2 separate regions of the Homo sapiens genome follow, and region 2 is linked to region 1. The links come from fine-mapping of genetic effects on gene expression. A gene starts in region 1. The other region holds a variant in brackets. All regions are shown on one strand. Distances are from middle to middle.

Region 1 (5,381 bases):
GCAGGTTTGGGCTGGAATCTCAAGGGGAACTGAAAAGATTTAGAAAAGCCCAGCTACTGTCCTCTTCTTTCCAATTCCACTATTTTCTGACCTAATCCTGTACAAGAAAATGTTATCAACAAATACGTAGTCAGTGATCTTCATGTGTCTGGCCTGAGAAAATAGCAATTAACCAAACAGACCTAATCCCCATTTTCCTGGAATGTATAGGTCCAATTGGAAAATATGGACAATAAGTATCAAAGAGTTGTGAGGAAGAAGTGTTCACTGGGGGCTAGCCCTTTTGGGGAGACATCATATAGCAGACAGATGCTATGACAGGGCTAGTTAAGGGAAGAGTTCAGGCTTCAAGTTGAGGCTCGTTACTTTCCCCTCCAGACTAGCTAGTTATTTCTTAGTGGATTTCCCTGCCTCCTATCTCTTTCCAGTCCTATATACCACCACCAAACTAACCATTGCTATCATGATTATGCTCAAAAATGGTCAATAGTCCCCCAGTGCCTACTACTTAGGCTTCAAACATTTTAGGCTGAGATTGAAGGCCTCTACCAGCCAGGGCCTAACCTTCCTTCCATACCTGGCTTCCACAGCCCTCCAATCCAGCTAAACTCACAGACTGTCCTTCATACATGCCATCCTTTATTACCTCTCCACTTTTGTCCCTGCCCATCATCTTGAGGGTTTTTCCTCCACAATCCACTCTTAATGTCTCATTTCCGCATGAAGACTCAACTTTCATGTCCATCAGAAAGTGTTCTCTAATCCCCAGTCTAGAAGCAACCTTCCTTTCTTCTGAACATCCATGGAAATTTGTTCATACTTCTTTTAGAATGTTTTTTACGACATTCCTAGAACTGTGGTTATTTTTATACTCTTCACATCTTCCTACTATATTATCAACCTAAAGACAGGATTTGTGGCTCATCCACTCTTAGACTCCATAATACTTTATACTCCAATAAAAAACAGATGTAGCTAAGGAAATACTGTGCTAATGTTTGTTGAAGTTAGTGCTAAAAAAAAGTCATATGAATGGATGCTTGGAACTTCCCTGTGATCCTGCACACATTGATTCTTATGGATATATATTTTTTCTGCATTTCTGGAACACAAATGTTCTAAATGCATACATACTTCATCCATCCATCCATTCATTCATTATTTAATACAAACATATTGAATGCCCGCCATATGCAAGGTATCCACAGGATAGGGAGGGTGCTGGCTCTGGCTTTATGCAATGTACGCACTCATTGATCAATGTTTATGTCATTTTGTTTCCCTTCTTTCCAGACAAAGGGAAGCAAAGACTCACTGCACCTCATTACTGTCAGCAGAGAGCAATGTGTAATTGGAATGACCTTTGTATAAGTGCTGACCTATGGGGTCAGAATAAGCCTTATAATGTACAGAACCAACTTATGTGCAATTTTAACATCGACAGAGAATATTGGCCTTTAAGAAATTCATCTCATATTTATTGTTTGGAGATTTTACTTTCAGAAGATATCAGTTACATTTCCCCTCTTTTTTTCTCTTTTCTGCAATTATTTTCCTGGCATTCATTCAATAAAGAGCTTCAAGTCACTTTTTTAGACTGAAATAAACTTTGATGAAAATTGAAAATCAATGCTTTCCTTCTAATGACGTTAAGAGAAAAGCCTCCAATTTTGCAATTATAATCAATATATAAAGGGGAAGTGGCCACAAATATGCTGCACATCTTAAGAAGCCAAGTGGGTTTGGTTACTTTAATTTTTAAATAATCAGGACATTTAAAAAGTTGCTGTTTATAAAATACTTTTTAAAAATGTCATCACACGCACTATGAGTGCACTCAGTCTTGATGTCTCGCTAAAGCATTAGCTGTCTAGCTCCTTCTCCTCCCAGAGCCTTTATCCTCATATTGGGTCTGGGGACACACATGCCGTCTCTTGATTCCTAAGGATCCATTACCCATTTCTCTGCACAGATCTTCGGGTATCCAACCTATCTGTGCCTCCTTCAGCCAGGAGCCTCCGGATCTTTCCAGACTTCTTTGCAATACTGCCTCATGCACTGAATCCATTTCTCGCATAGCCTGGCGCTTGGCAGGCAGGCTGGCGTTCCCTGGCTCTGCCTTCCCCATCTCCCTGTCTTTTCTCCCACGGCCCATCTGCCCCTCCTTTCCTCCACCCCCTTCTCCTCTCTGCTCCCCTTTATTTCCACTCCCCACCCGCGTGGCTTTGCTCTCCCTCTCCCCCCTCAGCTCGTCTGTATTTGGAGCTCCGGAAGCTGCCGGCGACTCTCCCCTGGAGCAGCGTGACTGACACCGGCTCCTATTCAGCTGGGAGGAGGGAGAGGGGAGGAGAAGGGGAGGGCCGCGGGAGGAGGGTACGAGTGGCCGACCACGGATTTGCATTGCCGAGGACGGGACCCCAGGGCAGCGAAGCAGGTAATCCTGCAGCGGTCGGGGCCCGGCGAGGCGGGGAGGGGTCGGGGTGCAGGTGCGGGGGGCGCCTGGCGGCGGGCGCTGGCAAGTTGAGCCCGATGGGTGGGGTAGGGAAGCGGCCGGGACGCTGCGGCTGTGGCAGCAGCGCGAGGGGAATAAAGGCGGCGCGGGCGCGGGGGCCGGGGCGCGGCGACCCGGGCGCGGGGCGCGGGCGCGGGCGGACTCCCATCTGGGTCAGCGGAGCGGCGCGCCCTGCCCCCGCCTCCCCAGCTCCGGCGTCCTGGCCGCTCGGAAGGCGGGGTGCGGGCAGGAGCTGCCCGGGGTTGGCGGGCGGCCGCGGCCTCCCCACCCCAGCGCCGCCGCCCGCCCGGCCGCTCTAACTTTGGGGGGTCTCGTCCACCGGGCTGTGAGTCTTCCAGGGGGGTGGGGGTGGGAGTCATTGCGCCGGCTCTGACCAGAGCCACCTCGATCAGAAAGTGCTGGAAAGAAACAGACCTGGCTTCCCCTCTGCAGAACCTGACTTGAGGCGATGAGTCACTTCTAAAAAATGCAGAGGCAACTGAGACTGGGGGAACGGCTCGGAAAAACGGCACCCGCCGCTGGCTCTCTGACTGCTTTGGGTAGAGGGGTGTTCGTGGAAGTAGCCGCCGTATCATCACTTTTAGGGCCAAAAATCAACCTGCAGATGGCCTTTTCTTTATTCTCATCAGAGTGGTGTTCGCTGCAAGTTGTAGCAATATTTGAATGGATGCATTCTTAAAAATGAGTATGTATGGGTGACTGCATTTAGGAAGTTGAACCGGGACTAGGTCCAAACAGCCAGAGTGGAGATGAACACTTGGTAAAAACATCTAGGACCTTTGGTTTTATAGTTATGGAAATGCAGAAGCTTCTGGGACTTGAGCACTGTAGTTTACTGAGTACTCCTATTTCCTTACTGCTTCTGTAGATTTCATTGAAGCTATGTTCCTTAGAATTCTTGGTAAACTATCTAAGCCCACTTAGTGTAAAATTACAACGGTAGAGTGAACTTTAGAGAATTGGATTTATAGTTACTAGAGTCTAATTAGACTGCAAGCCTCTTGAAAGCAAGGATGGGTTGTTTGGTAGTTCCTACGGCACCAAACAGTATTTGGCTCACAGCATGTAATGGATAGACAATAAAAGTGTGTGAAATAGTTAATTCAGTACCTTAAGTGTAGATGGAGCATGACTTCTTGAATATACTGCATATTTTGCAAGGAAAGGCGACTTCTCCATGAATCCCGAAATTTAAAAAATTCTTAATAACATTACAATCAAAGTGTCATATAAATACTTCTTAAGGATAAAGAGAAAAAGAAGTTGACTATGAGAAATCAGGAAGGTGATTATCAAGGTGGTCTTTGCTAGTAGGAAGTAAGTTTTTGTTCCCCATCGTTAATGTGAGAAGTAATTTAATTTGTTGATACAGGGTAGGGTTTGGTAAACCTTTGAGTTAAGAGCTAGATAGTAAACATGTAGGTTTTGCAGGCCATATGGTCTCCTTAGCAACTACTCAGTTCCACAGTTATAGTTTGAAAGCAGCTAAAGACAATACCTAAAGGAATGGTATGTTTGTGTTTTACTTTATTTACAGACATTGAACCTTGAACTTTTCACCAGTAACAAAATATTCTTCTGTTTTTTTCCAGGCATTAAAAAATGTAAAAACTATTCTTAGCTTGAGGGAGGAGCAGAAAACACAAAAGTAAGAGAGAAGGGAATGGATTTGTCCTTCTAGTAGTAGTTTGCTACTCCCACTGATTGATTCTGTGCTAGAATCTGGAGAGGAGCCTATTGAAAGGATTAATGGGCCACATTCTCTTGAGTGCCTGTTATACCTTGGCAGTTAAGTTAAATACCCTCCAGAAAAGCATTAACTTATTTTGAGCATTATGGAGTTTTGTTTTGTTTTGAATATTTCCTAACATCTTTATTCATGAGGTTTTGTTTTGTTTTTAATTTATTATGTAACATTTTATATGTAAAAATAATACGCTAAGTCTAGGTGAGTTATGAACATTATGTTCAACTGAACACCTGTGAACCCATCACTAGGTTTATAAACTAGGGCTTAAGAACTAGATAGTTGTGAAAAGATAGCTCATAGAATGGGAGGAAATATTTAGGAATCATGTATCTGATAAGGGTCTTGTATCCACAACATATAAAGAGTTCTTACAACTCAATAATAAAAAGAAAAATAATCCAATTTAAAAATGGGCAAAGGATCTGAATAGCTATCTCCAAAGAAGATATACAAATGGCCAATAAACCCATGAAAAGATACTCAACATCATTATTCATCAGAGAAATGCAAATCAAAACCACGATGGGATACCACTTTATACTCACTAGCATGGCTATAATCAAAAAGTCAGATAATAACAAATACTGGTGAGGATGTGGAGGAATTGGAACCTTTGTACACCACCGATGGGAATATAAGATGGTGCCCTCACTTTGGAAAAGTTTGGCAGTTCTTCAAATTAAACATAAAGTTACCATATGACCTAGCAATTCCATTGTAAATATATGTCCAAGAGAAATTAAAACATATGCTCACAAAAAAACCTGTACACAGATGTTGACAGCAACACCATTTATAATAACCAAGAGGTGGAAACAAACCAAATGACTATCAGTTGATGAGTGGATAAATAAAAGGTGGTATATCCATACAGCGAGATATTATTTGGCCATAAAAAAGAGTGGAGTACTGATACATGCTACAACATCGATGAATCTTGAAAACATTATGCTAAGTGAAAGAAGCCAGTCAAAATATCACGTACTGTATGATCTATTCATTTGAAAATGTCCAGACCAAGGAAATGTATACAGCTAGAAAGTAGATTTTTTGTTGCTTAGGGCTGAAGGGGCTGGAGGTGGGTTGAGTAGGGAAGTGATAGATAAAGGTCACAGGGTT
Region 2 (5,381 bases), 130 kb after region 1:
TTTCAGTTAGTTTCATCCTTGGGACTGGACCTCTTTTTCATATGAGTTTGTGTCATTTCCTCAGTGCTAAGTTTCAAATGCACTTCGTTGAACAAATTGATCTTTTGGCACAAACCCATTAGCAGCACTGTTACTTAGGATCCCTCGCAGTTGGTCAGAGCTGTAATATTCCTTGGCATTTCCTTCAAATCAGATAACTAAAGTCGAAAGACTAAGGCCTAGTCTTTACCCTTATAATTATTGAAATAATTGACTTTTTTCCTACAAAACTCTTCATTTCTGTGAATCTATAAATGCAGACTATTATCCTGTTCTAAAAACAGACTATTATCTGTTCAGAAAATTCTGCTCAGATAAAGGTCATGTAAAGAATTCTATGATTAGGAGAAATGTGATTATTTTATTAACTTTCGGTTGTTAAACTTGTTGACATATTTCTGTCCTTTCCTATATTTCTGAATTACTTTAGCTTTGGGATCAAATAAGATATAATTATTTGTAGAGTAGAATAAAACTGCACATGGATGAATGTATATACAGTCTTATGTAATAGTGATGTAGTTCTATTTTTTTTGTTGTTACTGTTTTTTGTTTTGTTTTGTTTTTTTGATACAGAGTTTCGCTCTGATGCCCAGGCTGGAGTACAGTGGCACGATTGCAGCTCACTGCAGCCTTGACCTCCTGAACTCAAGCAGTCCTCCTGCCTCAGCCTCCTAAGTAGCTGAGGCTACAGGCGTGCACCAACATGCCTGGCTAATTTTTATATTTTTTTTGTAGAGACGTGATTTCACCACGTTGCCCAGGCTGGTCTCAAACTCCTGGGCTCAAGTGATCCGCCTGCCTTGGCCTCCCTAAGTGCTAGGATGATAAGCATGGTAGGATGATAAGCTGCACCCAGCCAATGTAATTCTTAATAATACGGGTTTTAAAAATCCATCCTATACACTATCATCCATCCTAGCCTCTCCTGAACCTCCAGGAAAATGCAAGTCGTTGGTGGTGGTTACAATTATAGACAAGGTGGCGTTTCATTTTTCCCAAAGCAAAATGCTTTAGGATCACTTCTTTTCCTCCAGGTAGATATTTCTTTTCTTTCTGTTTCTTGGTGTAAAGGCCAAATGTCTGTTAACAAAGTGAAAGTTTAATAGCTTACTTTTGATCAAATTAAAACTCAGCCAGAGGGTATCCCGACTTATTATAAATAATGTAGACTCTGTGGCATGTCATTAACTATGAATATGTATGCCTTGTACGTTTTCAAGTCTTCAGGCCTCTTTACCTTCCTCTTGCTATTTACAAGAGAAAACTGTTCTTAAGCTTTTATATCCAAATTTTCATTTAGAACTTGTACCAAACCCACACCTTAGGGGTATTAATCAAAGTGAATGGGCAGCGCCTCAGATGATGTGTTGGTTGTCTGATGACAAAGCTCACTGTTCTCTATGGCTCTTCCCACGGAGTGGCCCTGGCCAGTGTACCTGACCACAGCTGCGTCGTTCTACTTAGTTCAGTTTGGGCTTCTAGGTCCCTTCTGGGGCTCTGGGTGGCCAGTTACTCTTATTCTCTTATGGAAGGGTTCCACATTGCTCAACAGGGGTTAGAAGTGTCATCAACTGGCTGGGCGCAGTGGCTCATGCCTGTAATCCCGGCATTTTGAGAGGCCGAGGCGGGCAGATCATGAGGTCAGGAGATCGAGACCATCCTGGCTAACACGGTAAAACCCTGTCTCTACTAAAAATACAAAAAAAAAAATTAGCCGCACAAGGTGGCGGGTGCCTGTAGTCCCAGCTACCGGGAGGCTGAGGCAGGAGAATGGCATGAACCTGGGAGGCGGAGCTTGCAGTGAGCCAAGATGGCACCACTGCACTCCAGCCTGGGCCACAGAGCGAGACTCCGTCTCAGAAAAAAAAAAGAAGTGTCATCAACTAACAAAGAAGCCTCAAATGCACAGGTAGATAGTAAAGTTAGGTTGGAAGTGGCTGTGAGTTCAGCCTGACAGAGACCACATAATTAAACCAATATGGCTTAAGCATCTACTATGCACTGAGTTCTGGGCAAGGGGCTAAGAATACAAAGATGGGTAGATGGCATTGTGGACACGATTCCTGTCCACGGAAACGCGCATTCTAGCTGAAGAAGATGAGCAATGCACCATGATAGAACAGGGGGAGCAGTGTGCTAGGGAATCCACACAAGGCATGACGCTTGCATAGACCAGGACCACGTGGAAGATACGGCCCATCCTGTAGTGCAGCATGGTTCTGGGGCCAACAGCAACCTGGGCACTTGTTAGAAAGCTCAGGCCCCTTGATTGGGCGCGGTACCTCAAGCCTGTAATCCCAGCACTTTGGGAGGCTGAGGCGGGTAGATCACCTAAGGTCAGGAGTTCGAGACCAGTGTTGCCAACATGGTGAAAACCTGTCTCTACTAAAAATACAAAAATTAGCTGGGCGTGGTGGTGCAGACCTGTAATCCCAGCTACTCAGGAGGCTGAGGCAGGAGAATCGCTTGAACCTGGGAGGTGGAGGTTGCAGTCAGCCTGCATTGCACCACGGGACTCTAGCCTGGGCGACAGAGCAAGACTCTGTCTCAAAAAAGACAAAAAGGAAAGAAAAAAAAAGAAATCTCAGGCTCTCAGGCCCCACCTCAGCCCTCCCAAATCACAACCTACTTTTCAACAGGATTCCCAGGTAATTTATATGCATAGTGAAGTTCGAAAAGCACTGCTCTACTGTATTTAAGTTGGGCCAAAGGAGTTGTTATAGGGAAATCATTCACTTTTACACGTTCATTTATTTAGTAATTCACTTCCTTGGTAACTACTTATTGGCTACTTACCATGTACCAAGCACACACCAGGCATTATATTTATACTACAGTTCTTCCGTGAAGCAGCAGGGTTTTTATTATGATGCATAAATAAATAACAGCAATACAAAGCTAGGTTGGAAAATAAGCCTTGTGAATTAGACTCCTTCCTGGGTGGGCACGAAGAGCCACAAAAGGGCTGACACTTGATTTGGATCTTGACGGTGAGCAGGAGTTCCCTAGGCAAACAGTAAAGGGAAGGGCAGTTTTGGGGCAGAGAATTCAGCATATGTA[C/T]GTAAGACATGAACAATGTACTTTGAGAGAAAGGCTGGTGGTTTTGCAGAGCTGAATGTGGCAAAAGGTGAGGCCAGAAAGGCAGGTTGGGGCCAGATGGTGAAATCCTTATGCATTATGCTAAGAAGGTGGGGCTATGTAGTGTTTGAAGTTGTTTCCTTTGCCATAGGTTTTGTTGTTTGTTTTTTGTTTTTGAGACAGAGTCTCACTCTGTCGCCAGGCTGGAGTGCAGTGGCACGATCTCGGCTCATTGCAACCTCCGCATTCTGGGTTCAGGTGATTCTCCTGCCTCAGCCTCCAGAGTAGCCGGTACTACAGCCATATGCCACCATGCCTGGCTGATACCTCAGGTGATCCACTCGCCTTGGCCTCCCAAAGTGCTGGGATTACAGGTGTGAGCCACCGTACCCAGCCTGCATGGGTTCTTAAGCAGAAAGCAACACACTGTGAATAATGACTTAGGAATTGCATAAGATAGATGGAGAGGGGAAGAGATTAGAGGCCCTGATACGTGTTGGGAGACTTTAGTGGATGGCTAGAGGGTGAGGTAGTTAGTATGTGACCTAGAGTGTGACAATGGCAATGCAAAGAGATGGAGTAGCCACTGAGTTGGAGGACAAGGGACATAAAATCTAACACAAAATTTCCAATCTGGAAGTCTGGGAGAGAATCGTGGTAATATAAAAATAGGGAAATCGCAAGGAGGAGCTGGTAGAGAAGGAAGAAAAATCTTCACCTGGGGTTTCACTGCATTGTGTTTGAGGTGCGGGAGGTATAGGAGAGACATCCAAACACGTGGAGTCAGGAGGTGAGATTTAGATCTGGAATTCACTGAAGGGGGAGACCCCGATGTACGTGTTGGGAGTCATCTACCTAGAAAAGACCGGCAAATAAATAAGATGGTTAAAAAAGAGAGAGTGAGATCAAGGATAAAACCTTGGAAAACACTATTATTTCAAGAATGGGGTAAACTAATCAAGGAGACAAGAGATAGGAGAACTAGAAGAATGGAGAGTCTCAAAGCTATAGGGAAAACAGGCTGGCCAGTGATACCAACTGTAGTAAGCTGTGGTGAATAAGGATTGGACAAAGGCTGTCATCAGCCATGTTTACCATGTTATTAGTAACCTTCCAAGAGCAGTTTCTGGAGGACTGGAGGCAGATGCAGTTTTACAGAATTAAGGAGTAAAATGTTTTTGTAATCAAAGTACTTTGGGAGGTTGAGGCGGTTGGATCACAAGGTCAAGAGATCAAGACCATCCTGGCCAACATGATGAAACCCCGTCTCTACTAAAAATACAAAAATTAGCTGGGCGTGGTGACGCATGCCTGTAGTCCCAGCTACTCAGGAGGCTGAGGCAGGAGAGAATGGCTTGAACCCAGGAGGCAGAGGTTGCAGTGAGCTGAGATCGCGCCACTGCACTCCAGCCTGGTGACAGAGAAAGACTCTGTCTCAAAAAAAAAAAAAAAAAAAAAAGGAGTAAGAAGTTTTCCTGTAATGATCTCTTGATTATTTCTGGACCAGTTGTCTAATTTGATGGATTATTTCTTATGGCTTCAATTTCTGCCTTTTGAAATTTGGGGTATTTGTGAATTTTCATTTTAATCTGTGCTATATCTTCAATAGAATAGGTGAAAAATAGTCAAATATCTCCAATTTCACACACAGTCATTAAGAGCTATACTGTGAAGCTCTAAGTAAATGTGTTCTATTTAGAACTGTTTTTATTATCTCATAAATACCTTTGAGTTTTAGTGTCAGTTGATAATGATGCAGGGAAGGTGAACCCCAAAAGTGGGGCTTAGCCAGGAGGGTTCTTGGCTTTGCCCAGGCGAGAATTCAAGGGTGAGCCAGCGGTGTTAGACAGCAGCTTCTATGGCAGCAGCAATGTGCAGCAGCAGCAGGGGTACCATAGGAACTGTGCCCAGAGTAGCAGCTCAGGGACCATTCTGCCATTATATTTATATTCACTTTTAATTATAGGCAAATTAAGGGGGAAGTTATTCAGAAAGTTCTAGAAAAGAGGTGATAACTTCCAGGTCATTGCCATGGAAAGGGGTAGTTAGTAACTTCCAGGTGTTGCCATGGCAGTGGTCAACTGACATGGCCCTGGTGGGCATGTCTTCTGGAGAGGTGCTTTCACCTCTTTCCCCCATTGCAGCGAGTCTTCAGTCTGGTTTGGCATTCAAGTCCTGCCCAGCCCCAGTCAAGCCTGCCTCATACCTTAATAAGAATCTATAAATATTTTAGAGTATTTCTTTTCTTTTCTTTTCTTTTT

What was found. PIP is the estimated chance that this variant, and not a neighbour inherited with it, causes the effect.
Region 2: its variant is fine-mapped to the expression of CAP2 in nasal epithelium (TOPMed, PIP above 0.99).

What each region holds. Positions count from the first base shown.
Region 1 is chr6:17,391,313-17,396,693 of GRCh38, forward strand. It overlaps CAP2 (cyclase associated actin cytoskeleton regulatory protein 2), which reads left to right and starts at 2,283. Exons shown (of 13, transcript NM_006366.3): 1 at 2,283-2,434.
Region 2 is chr6:17,519,518-17,524,898 of GRCh38, forward strand. All of the region lies in intron 7 of CAP2 (cyclase associated actin cytoskeleton regulatory protein 2), which reads left to right. Among named protein-coding and RNA genes, the nearest start is that of FAM8A1, 78 kb to the right of the region's middle. The variant C/T (reference allele first, on the strand shown) is at 3,103.